Homo sapiens: one gene and its partner. The protein of the gene in region 1 interacts with the protein of each later gene in a biochemical or structural test. Each region holds a gene or a part of one and is shown on either strand. Other genes may lie near its edges.

The links.
Region 2: the proteins of ITGAX (region 1) and MIA3 form a complex in vitro, tested with the Homo sapiens proteins (one study listed by BioGRID).

The regions. Positions count from the first base shown.
Region 1 is NC_000016.10:31,378,987-31,383,601, forward strand, and holds the end of ITGAX (integrin alpha-X isoform 2 precursor), read left to right. Parts: intron 1-581; coding exon 582-660; intron 661-770; coding exon 771-878; intron 879-995; coding exon 996-1,079; intron 1,080-1,279; coding exon 1,280-1,393; intron 1,394-1,536; coding exon 1,537-1,638; intron 1,639-1,910; coding exon 1,911-2,021; intron 2,022-2,816; coding exon 2,817-2,921; 3' UTR 2,922-3,481; coding exon of another isoform or gene 3,482-3,510; 3' UTR 3,511-4,013; downstream 4,014-4,615. UniProt on the Homo sapiens protein: Integrin alpha-X/beta-2 is a receptor for fibrinogen. It recognizes the sequence G-P-R in fibrinogen. It mediates cell-cell interaction during inflammatory responses. It is especially important in monocyte adhesion and chemotaxis.
Region 2 is NC_000001.11:222,649,049-222,656,339, forward strand, and holds part of MIA3 (transport and Golgi organization protein 1 homolog isoform 1 precursor), read left to right. Parts: intron 1-1,243; coding exon 1,244-1,332; intron 1,333-1,585; coding exon 1,586-1,663; intron 1,664-1,744; coding exon 1,745-1,855; intron 1,856-2,928; coding exon 2,929-3,000; intron 3,001-3,179; coding exon 3,180-3,284; intron 3,285-3,959; coding exon 3,960-4,082; intron 4,083-4,179; coding exon 4,180-4,291; intron 4,292-5,194; coding exon 5,195-5,250; intron 5,251-5,340; coding exon 5,341-5,431; intron 5,432-5,606; coding exon 5,607-5,745; intron 5,746-7,291.

The DNA of each region.
Region 1 (4,615 bases):
TGTATTTTTAGTAGAGATGGTGTTTCTCCATGTTGGCCAGGCTGGTCTTGAACTCCCGACCTCAGGTGATCTGCCTGTCTCAGCCTGTCAAAGTGCTGGGATTATAGGCGTGAGCACTGTGCCTGGTCTCTAAACTCTCTCTCTCTGTTTTTTTTTGAGAGAGAGAGAGTCTTGCTCTGTCATTCAGTGGCGTGATCTGGGCTCACTGCAACCTCTGTCCCCTGGGCTCAAACAATTCTCCTGTCTCAGCCTCCTGAGTAGCTGGGATTACAGGTGCACACCATCATGCCTGGCTAATTTTTGTATTTTTAGTAGAGACAGGGTTTCACCATGTTGGCCAGGGTGATCTCGAACTCCTGATCTCAGGTGATCCGCCCATCTCAGCATCTCAAAGTGCTGGGATTACAGGCCTGAGCCACCGCGCCTGGCCTCTAAACTCTCTTATAACCTAACTCAGCCACAGCCCTCATTCCAGGACATTCCAAGGCCCCACCGACCACCTGTCCTCTCATGCTCTAGCCAATGCCTTCTGCAGATGCCCCATGGTAGTTCACATCCACTTATGCGTCTTCTCTCTCCAGCCACGAACAATTCACCAAATACCTCAACTTCTCAGAGTCTGAGGAGAAGGAAAGCCATGTGGCCATGCACAGATACCAGGCAGGTGGTGGAGACGCAGGAGACTGGGCTGGGGTGGGAGGCTGGGAGCCGGAGACTGGGGAGGGATTTGGGCTTTGGCGTGGGCTCTGCCCTCAGTGCCCTCTGTGCAGGTCAATAACCTGGGACAGAGGGACCTGCCTGTCAGCATCAACTTCTGGGTGCCTGTGGAGCTGAACCAGGAGGCTGTGTGGATGGATGTGGAGGTCTCCCACCCCCAGGTACCCAAGGACTGCATGTGGCTCCTCCACGAATGCCCTTTCTACCTGGATTCCTTGTGCCCCATGTGGGTCCCTGATGTCCCAGCTGAGACACTTGTTCTCTGCATTTTCCCCCAGAACCCATCCCTTCGGTGCTCCTCAGAGAAAATCGCACCCCCAGCATCTGACTTCCTGGCGCACATTCAGAAGAATCCCGTGCTGGTGAGGAGGGCTCTGGGCTGGCCCTCACTGTAGGCCCCACATCAGAGGAATTTAACCCAGGAGTTCATGTTCCATATCCATCCTGCTGAAGTACCCTCTTGCATTCGGATATGGCCGCTGCCCTCAAGTCACACCGCATAATGCTGCCTCCCACCTTCACACTCATCTTTCTCAGCCCCATGCTATTTATCTGCCCCCAGGACTGCTCCATTGCTGGCTGCCTGCGGTTCCGCTGTGACGTCCCCTCCTTCAGCGTCCAGGAGGAGCTGGATTTCACCCTGAAGGGCAACCTCAGCTTTGGCTGGGTCCGCCAGGTGTGTGGGTGCAACGACAGAGCCCCTGCCCCAGACTCAGGCGGGACCTGGCATGTCTGTGCCCATCTGCAAGCCAGGGCACCCCCAGAGCTCTGAGCCTCCCCCAGAGCCAGTTCAACAGGTTTCCCCCAACCCCTTTGCAGATATTGCAGAAGAAGGTGTCGGTCGTGAGTGTGGCTGAAATTACGTTCGACACATCCGTGTACTCCCAGCTTCCAGGACAGGAGGCATTTATGAGAGCTCAGGTAGAGACCATGTGGAGGGCAGCGACCAGGCTGGAAAGAGGGCCCCTAGGGCTACATCTGTGGTGCTGGGTGGGGGGTTTGCAAGCCTTGGGGGAGGAGGGCGAAGGCCTCTGGGCAGGATAGCTGTCCCTAAGGGCACGGGTGCTGCTGTGTCTCACCTCTTGGAGCAGGGCCTGGGGAAGGAGGGGAGGGAGTTAAAGGTTGGGGAGCCTGGGAGGAGTCTGGGATAGTAGGAGGATGGGAGTGCTCTGACAGGGTCACTTCCACTTCAGACGACAACGGTGCTGGAGAAGTACAAGGTCCACAACCCCACCCCCCTCATCGTAGGCAGCTCCATTGGGGGTCTGTTGCTGCTGGCACTCATCACAGCGGTACTGTACAAAGTGAGTGTTTTATGCCACTCTTGACACCACCAGCATCTGGTCCCGCTCTTTTTGCAGAGTGAGAAGGAGCTCACTTTGAAGGCAGAGGCACATTCTTACTGGGTCACTTCATATGAGAAACTGCTTCCCACCTGCAATGTCACCTGTCCCCAGTGGCCCCCTGCTTTGTGATTCCCAGGCTTCCTCTAATATTTCTCCCTTTCTTTCCTGCTCTTCTCCATCATTCTACGTGTTTCCCTTGACAGCAGATTATCATATAAAAGCACAGACCTGGGTTTGAATGTCGACATCACCACGGGTTCTTTTTGTCTTTGACCATAGGCCAGTGTCTGCTCCACTCTGGGCCTTGATTTCTCAATGTGAAGGTGATTCTACCCCAGCTCATAGAATTTTGGCTAAATCTAGGCTGGGCACGGTGGCTCATGGCTGTAATCCCAGCAGTTTGGGAGATCGAGGCAGGTGGATCACTTGAAGTCAGGAGTTAAGAGACCAGCCTGGCCTACCTGGTGAAACCCCGTCTCTACTAAAAATACAAAAATTAGTTGGGCATGGTGGAGGTTGCAGTGAGCCGAGATCACGCCACTGCACTCCAGCCTGGGCAACAGAGTGAGACTCCATCTCAAAAAGAAAATAATTTTGGCTAAATCTAGATGACATGATGCATATAAAGTTCCTAGTGCAGTGCTTTGAACCTAGCAAGGATTTCAGAAATAGTGACCCCTCTCCCTCAGTCATCTCTTTTCCTCTCTTCCACTGAATGGGCTTCCTGAGTTTCTTCTTCGTCCTCCCCCCTAGGTTGGCTTCTTCAAGCGTCAGTACAAGGAAATGATGGAGGAGGCAAATGGACAAATTGCCCCAGAAAACGGGACACAGACCCCCAGCCCGCCCAGTGAGAAATGATCCCCTCTTTGCCTTGGACTTCTTCTCCCCCGCGAGTTTTCCCCACTTACTTACCCTCACCTGTCAGGCCTGACGGGGAGGAACCACTGCACCACCGAGAGAGGCTGGGATGGGCCTGCTTCCTGTCTTTGGGAGAAAACGTCTTGCTTGGGAAGGGGCCTTTGTCTTGTCAAGGTTCCAACTGGAAACCCTTAGGACAGGGTCCCTGCTGTGTTCCCCAAAGGACTTGACTTGCAATTTCTACCTAGAAATACATGGACAATACCCCCAGGCCTCAGTCTCCCTTCTCCCATGAGGCACGAATGATCTTTCTTTCCTTTCTTTTTTTTTTTTTTTCTTTTCTTTTTTTTTTTTTTGAGACGGAGTCTCGCTCTGTCACCCAGGCTGGAGTGCAATGGCGTGATCTCGGCTCACTGCAACCTCCGCCTCCCGGGTTCAAGTAATTCTGCTGTCTCAGCCTCCTGAGTAGCTGGGACTACAGGCACACGCCACCTCGCCCGGCCCGATCTTTCTAAAATACAGTTCTGAATATGCTGCTCATCCCCACCTGTCTTCAACAGCTCCCCATTACCCTCAGGACAATGTCTGAACTCTCCAGCTTCGCGTGAGAAGTCCCCTTCCATCCCAGAGGGTGGGCTTCAGGGCGCACAGCATGAGAGGCTCTGTGCCCCCATCACCCTCGTTTCCAGTGAATTAGTGTCATGTCAGCATCAGCTCAGGGCTTCATCGTGGGGCTCTCAGTTCCGATTTCCCAGGCTGAATTGGGAGTGAGATGCCTGCATGCTGGGTTCTGCACAGCTGGCCTCCCGCGTTGGGCAACATTGCTGGCTGGAAGGGAGGAGCGCCCTCTAGGGAGGGACATGGCCCCGGTGCGGCTGCAGCTCACCCAGCCCCAGGGGCAGAAGAGACCCAACCACTTCTATTTTTTGAGGCTATGAATATAGTACCTGAAAAAATGCCAAGACATGATTATTTTTTTAAAAAGCGTACTTTAAATGTTTGTGTTAATAAATTAAAACATGCACAAAAAGATGCATCTACCGCTCTTGGGAAATATGTCAAAGGTCTAAAAATAAAAAAGCCTTCTGTGGATATGAGTCCTGAAGGATGACACCCATGGGGTCCCTTTACCACGGTGGACCCTGGCCAGCACTGAGGCCTGGGGCCAGGACAAGAAGTTAACCAGAGTAGGGTTGTGAATATCCCTCTCTTGGAAGTAACCTGACCTCTTAATCTGCTCACTCCACTCTCAGGGCTGGTGCCGATGGTAAGCTGGTGGAGCTGTCGGGTGGAGGGGGCATAGAATAGAGAAGGGACAACCTCCAGTGGCTACTTTTCCACCTGGAAAGGTCTCTGGAGTGACCAATACTCACAAGCGTTTCCTACAAGTCCTAGGATGTGTTGAAGGGCACACTGTCTGCATATAGTGAGTGATTGAAGAACATGTTGGGGTCCCACATTGAGAGCTGCTGCCCACAATAAGGTCATTCTTGCTATTATGCCACCATCCTGGCATAAAGTTCATCATGGTGCTTGGCACTGAGCTGGGGGCCTCACAGGACAAGCCATTCCTGACCTCGGAGTGACGCCACTGCAGCTATCACCAGCAAGGGACCCGGGCCGTGTGGATGTTTCAATTAGAAAAACAGAAGGGAGGCAGTTGAGTGATTTGAAGGGAAGATGGAAAGTGGCCC
Region 2 (7,291 bases), on another chromosome or scaffold:
AACGAATTGTGGGAGTAGGGAGAAGATCATTAATTTGGGGCAGATTGACCTTAAATGTTGATGTAGTACCAATTTATTACATGTGACCAGTGTCCCTGTGCTAATGATTTAGTCAGTACATTAAATATTTATTTAAGTAGATAATTTGAGAACTAGAAATATAAATCAGCACGCCTGCATTTTCTGTTTCTCTTTGCAAATGACATATTTGAAGTGATGCCATTTTCTGAGAAGAAAGATGCTTCATGCAGGGAGGAATATTGAGCTATAACATTTTACTGTATTTCCCATCTTGGAAATAAATTAAACTCTCATTGAAATAAAGGTTCTTATTATATTTTTCTTAAATTCTAACCGTATTTTTACATCCTTATTCTTGTTAGCAGATTGCTTTTTGTATTAATCTGTTCTCACACTGCTATAAAGAAATACCCAAGGCCTGGTGTGGTGGCTCATGCCTGTAATCCCAACACTTTGGGAGGCCAAAGCGGAGGATTGCTTGAGCTCAGGAGTTCGAGACCAGCCTGGGCAACATGGAGAAACCCCATCTCTATAAAAAAAATATAAAAGTTAGCTGGGTGTGGTGGCACACACCTGTAGTCCCAGCTACTCAGGAGGCTGAGGCAGGAGGATTGCTTGAGCTTGGGAGGCGGACTTTGCAGTGAGCTGAGATTGCACCACTAAACTCCAGCCTGGACAACAGAGCAAGACCCTGTCTCAAAAAAAGAAATACCTGATACTGGGTAATTTATAAGAAGTTTAATTAGCTCATGTTTCTGCAGGCTATAGGAAGTATAGCGGCATCTGCTTCTGAGGAGGCCTCAGGGAGCTTTTACTCACAGCAGAAGGCAAAGCGAGAGCAGGCCATCTTACATGGTGGGAGCAGGAGCAAGAGAGAGTGAGCGGGGAGGTGCTGCACACTTTTAAAACCAGATTCCACAAGAACTCAGTCACCATCACAGAATAGCACCACAGGGATGGTGATAAACCACTCATGAGAAATCTACCCTTATGATCCAATCACCTTCCACCAGGCCCCACCTGAACACTGGGTACTATAATTTGTTATGAGATTTGATGGAGACACAGAACCAAACCATATCACTTTTTAAAACCATAATAGTTATGCTGAGAAGTTATTTTTTGTCATAGTGCAAGATAACATGTCTTTGCTGCTGATACATTGGGTAATTCAATTTCATTTAGTGATCATAATAACCTTATTATTTTTTTCTTTTTTCAGTCACGGAACAGCAAATTTCTGAGAAGTTGAAGACTATCATGAAAGAAAATACAGAACTTGTACAAAAATTGTCAAATTATGAACAGAAGGTATGATTATTCTTTGTTTTTTTTTTTTTTCATGGTCCCAGCTTGAATTATTTGTCACCTATCTTATAGTTCAGTTACTATGGTATTTTTAAATAGTATTTATTATTACATTAATTCCTATAAACCATCCAGATCTTAAGCAGTCATATGTGTAAAGTACTGTTTTCTTCTGTAAGAGGTCAGTCACTTGAAAATAAGTTCTGGTAGCACTATACTTTATATTTCTGGATTCTGAATGCTTTATTTTATATAGATCAAGGAATCAAAGAAACATGTTCAGGAAACCAGGAAACAAAATATGATTCTCTCTGATGAAGCAATTAAATATAAGGTAAAAACTTCTTTTGGGGATTACATTTTAAAACAAAAGTAAAAGTAATGAGTATAACTAACCTTAATATCTTTTTTGTAGGATAAAATCAAGACACTTGAAAAAAATCAGGAAATTCTGGATGACACAGCTAAAAATCTTCGTGTTATGCTAGAATCTGAGAGAGAACAGAATGTCAAGAATCAGGACTTGGTAAGAGTTTTGCTGCTAAGTATTACTAATAATTTGGGTTTTGAACTCTTTTGTAGATTGAGTTGAACTCTTTATTTTCCATGCTGTTATGTGAAGTAAGAGTGCGAGTCAGGGAAGTTGAACCTACTTCTGTCCATTTTTGTGGAATTTTAAGTACTTACACAAGAAATTATTCTTACAGGCCTAGGAAGTATTTTGGTTCTCAACCCTAGGTAATTGTCATATTGCTTGGCTCTGCCCTCCGAAACATGTGGAACAACTAAGAAACCCAGTTGAACAGTCCTTGTGTTTTGTTTTGTTTTGCAAAGTTTTTTTTTTTTTTTGCTATAAACATTTTATTTTATTAATAGAATAGTTTTAGAATGACCTAAAAGTTGCAAAGATAGTAGAGAGGGTTCCATAAATCCCACACCCTATTAATCTTGATGACCTCGTTGAGGTAGTATTGCCAGGTTTCTTCACTGTAAAATTACTTTTTTTTTTTTTAAACTTTTTGCATTATTGTACTCTTTGGAAGGAAGTTACTATCGCAGCCCACAGTTAAAAAGTGAAGGGTTATGCTCCATCCTCTTGAGGAGCCAGAATCTTCATAAATTATCTAGAATTCTATATGGGTGATCTGTCTATTCTCACTCCAATCCTACCATTTTTAATTTAGGCAAGAGCAATTGGTGTTTGACAAAACAATTGTCAAATTGTACTAAATTAAAGTACCTTGGGGATTATTTTTTTCTCTTGCCACAAGAAAAAAAAAAGTCACATTGATTTGAACTGGTTTACTTAAAAGTTTTTTCAGTTTCTTTTCTTTCACCTTTTAGTCTGGTCATCTACCACATTTTATTCTAACCAGGAAGGTTGTGTATGCTGTGAAATATTTATGCCTTTGATTATTTTCCCTTACCTCTTTAAGTTCTTGATTTTTCCCGAGGGCAAAACTGAAACACCTGCTTTTACCTGAAACATAGGGGATGGCTCTGGGACATACTTTGTTGATGTTTCTTCTTCTTAGTATGTATCCCAGTGTTTCTACTAAAATCCTAATATGCATTTTGTGTTCTGTTTTTACATGGCAGATATCAGAAAACAAGAAATCTATAGAGAAGTTAAAGGATGTTATTTCAATGAATGCCTCAGAATTTTCAGAGGTAAAGCTGACTGTAATTCCTGCAGGATATTAATACTATATCATAGTTTGATTGCAGAGCAAAAATTTGATATATGCTAAAATGTGCAAAAAATGAAAACTACATGATGTTGGGTTGGAAAAGTAACTTTTTCTGGTTTTCTTTGGAATTAATTCACTAATAGGAGTGTTTTGCATTAGGTTCAGATTGCACTTAATGAAGCTAAGCTTAGTGAAGAGAAGGTGAAGTCTGAATGCCATCGGGTTCAAGAAGAAAATGCTAGGCTTAAGAAGAAAAAAGAGCAGGTAAAGGAAAGTGCGTGTCCCAGGTCATGTAAAATAGAGAACTCAGTATCATACCTCATGAATGCCTTTACTCAGATCTATTTTTAGGGTAATATATGTGCAGGATTCTGTTCTTAGATATGCAAAGTTTAAACTATGCTTCCAAAATTGAGTGTAGGTATACATTCTCTATCTGTTCTGGATTTTCTGTTCTGTACAATTTATTTTGGCTATCAGAGTGTGTAGTCTTGTTTTGTCAGACACCAATTGCTATTAACTTGAGTAGCCTCGAGTGGGTAGTAGATTGGCTTTTTAGACCCAAGAGTTAGATATTTTATAACCCTCCTTTGAGTAGTTACTGCTTCACTAGCCAAGGGAAGGTTACATGATCAGGAGTGTGGACTTGGGAGATAGTAGGATGAGCCCTTCTGTTCCTTCTGGAAGTGAATTATTTGAATTGGCTACAATTTTCTGAAGGATGCAATAAACAAGATCAATTTCCTTGATAGCTCTGATGTTCTCACTACAGCTCTGAGGGTTGGGGCCACTGTCTCCTCCCACTTAACCAAGGTCTTAGCCCATAGTGATAGGCCAAGGAGAGGCATGGTTCCTTATTTACCTGTCTCATTCATGTGGTCCTAATGTCTCCAGTGCAAAAGCCCTAACCTGTGGGAATCATGTGTTTTAACTTTGCAGTTGCAGCAGGAAATCGAAGACTGGAGTAAATTACATGCTGAGCTCAGTGAGCAAATCAAATCATTTGAGAAGTCTCAGAAAGATTTGGAAGTAGCTCTTACTCACAAGGATGATAATATTAATGTAAGTGCGTTCATGAATACAAGCTTAATTCTTGTGAATTATCAAATCTGTTGAATTAAATGGAAAGACTCTTAATGCCCTTTTACTTCTTTTCTAGGCTTTGACTAACTGCATTACACAGTTGAATCTGTTAGAGTGTGAATCTGAATCTGAGGGTCAAAATAAAGGTGGAAATGATTCAGATGAATTAGCAAATGGAGAAGTGGGAGGTAAGATCAGCCTCAAGGAGGATGGACCCCTTTTGCCTTCCTGTCTTTAAGTGCACCAGTGCTACTTTTCAGCTGGCTGCATTTCCTCTTAAGCTTTCGAGGTGTAAATACATTGGATTTGAATGTGTGTCTGTTTGCATTGGGCAGAGGTGGATTGCTAGGGTGAGGTGTAGCAGTAAGCATGCAGTGAACACTGACTTTGTTTTCACATTGAGACTAGAAGGGTGCACGGGAGCTGCACTGGTCATGTCTTACACCTCTAAGTATTGGACACATACAGTAGTAGAAACTTGTTTTTCAATTTCATGGAGATAACATTTTAAAACTTGTCATCTCAGTAGCTGTGTGGTTTTAAGGCCCACAACTGGTTTTAAGAGTACTGAGGTGGTTGGAGGCATAAACTGACTAAGGCCATGAAAGAAAACCACAACTGGTTTTGAGAGTACTGAGGTGGTTGGATCCATAAACTAAGGCCATGAGAGTGGAGGCTATAGTGTTGCAGTGTTTACTGATGAGGAAAATGTTTCTAGATGCCCTCTCTCAAGTTGGATATTGCTTGTGTAGTGGGTGTTTTAAACCACACCTGGTAGTAGATTCTGGAGGAGAATAGGAGGGAATCTTTCTGAATAAGACACTAAGCCCAGATGGAAGAAAGAGCTTTATCTCACATGTTTCTTCTTGCTCAATAATGGCATGTATAACATGTTTATTGTACAAATGGGAATTCACTTTTTCAGTCTTAAGTTTGCAGTTCTCTTAAAAGTCAGTCTAATCCTTTTCTGTTTTTGTTTGTTCTTTAAATGTTTGAACATGACAATTGTTTAGTTTTGGGTAAATCAAGAAAATATAGATTTAAAAAGCAAGGGAAGAAAAAGCAATGAAAGAAAGCCTTTTGTTTTTTAGGTGACCGGAATGAGAAGATGAAAAATCAAATTAAGCAGATGATGGATGTCTCTCGGGTATAATCGTTTTTAGAGTCCCATAATTGCCTGTGAATACTTTTACTATGCCTCACTTTTATGAATACTTGTCTCTTCTGCAATTTTTAGACACAGACTGCAATATCGGTAGTTGAAGAGGATCTAAAGCTTTTACAGCTTAAGCTAAGAGCCTCCGTGTCCACTAAATGTAACCTGGAAGGTAGGTTGCTTCTTGAGAAGAAATTGCTATATATTGGAAAGATACAAAATTGCATTAGAAAGATAAAGAGCGGCTTCCTGCTTTCATACTTCTCATTTCTCTCAGCACCAGCCCCCAACCAAGTTCTCAAGTTCTTGTGCACACATATGGAACTCAAATGTTTTATCCTTTACAGACCAGGTAAAGAAATTGGAAGATGACCGCAACTCACTACAAGCTGCCAAAGCTGGACTGGAAGATGAATGCAAAACCTTGAGGCAGAAAGTGGAGATTCTGAATGAGCTCTATCAGCAGAAGGAGATGGCTTTGCAAAAGTAAGATTATCATCATTTACTGTTAACTGTATTGTCATGTCAGTAAATAAATGTGTACTAATATAGATAATGTTATCGTTTTTCAGGATTGTACTCTTTTGCATCTGTAATTAGTATAAATTTGTCTTTCTTTCTTTCTGCTTTGTTTCTCATAAGCTGCATTTTTCTTTCCTTTCTAACCAGTAGTCAAAAACTGTTGCCTGTAACTCACTTAAGGGGGAGCAGTGTACTGGTACTGACGGTCGCTGCTGTGGGAGTGCTTCTCTTTTGAAGATCTGGCCATGCCTTGTCTGTGGCTCCGCCACTTGTTTCACTTTCCTTTCTTTGTGGTCAATTATGTAATTTCCTTTAAACAGTCTGAGGGATTTGTATGACGTGTTTTAGTAGAATAAAAACTTCAAAAAAGGAAAATTTACTTATTGAAGGTACATTTAGTTTTGGACTTCACAGAGTAAAATATTCAAACTAAACATAATTGTGGCAAAGATATTAGGAGTTTTGAATGTAGAACTATTTGGTGTGTATATTTAGATAATAATCCTCTGAAATACATATCTCAAATTTCGAGCGAGGTACCTTTTGAGAGGTATATTTTTATAGTTCAAGTTTTTTGTCCACAAAAACATCTGAATTCTCTAAAAATAGGTTATCTGTGGCAGTTGCTATTTGTGTTTGCTCTTATGTTTTACTCTTTGGTGTATATGGCAGTGTGTGAGGAGGCCTCTCTTGCTAAGCAAATTTAACTTTTTTAAATGCTTAGACTGCTACTGCTGTATGCCATTAAATATTGAAACCATACCATTAACTTTTTCTCTAATTCTTTGCTCACCAGGCAGCCAGTTTAGATTTTCCAGGTTTTGTTCAGGCCAGCTCTAAATAAATGCCTGTCCTGCTTCAGAGAGACATTCCTCATTTCATTACTTTTTAAAAAAGAGCACTTCTCTGCCTCCAATAGTAATGTGAATTACGTAAATGGCAACTGTTTTTCTTCGTGATACAGTTAACCCATTGATGTGGCAGTGTTTTATTCAACTTCCCCAAAATTCATTCAGTCTCCATGTGTGGTTTGTACTCTACTGTCCACCCCTAAAGTCACTGTGTTAATTCAGGCCCTTGTCATCTTTTATGCCAGTCCCCTAGCTAATCACGTATCTCCAGACTTTCTTTCCCTTTTTTTTTTTTTTTTTTTTTTTTGAGACAGAGTCTCACTCTGCCGCCCAGGCTGGAGTGCAGTGGCGTGGTCTCAGCTTACTGCAAGCTCCGCCTCCCAGGTTCATGCCATTCTCCTGCCTCAGTCTCCCGAGTAGCTGGGACTACAGGCGCCCGCCACCATGCCCGGCTAATTTTTTTTGTATTTTTAGTAGAGATGGGGTTTCACCTGTGTTAGCCAGGATGGTCTCAATCTCCTGACCTCGTGATCCACCCGCCTCGGCCTCCCAAAGTGCTGGGATTACAGGTGTGAGCCACCGCGCCCGGCCAAAGAATATACTTTAATGCAGGTTCAGTGAGTTTACTTTTGTATGAAAATGTCTTTAGTTTGACTCCA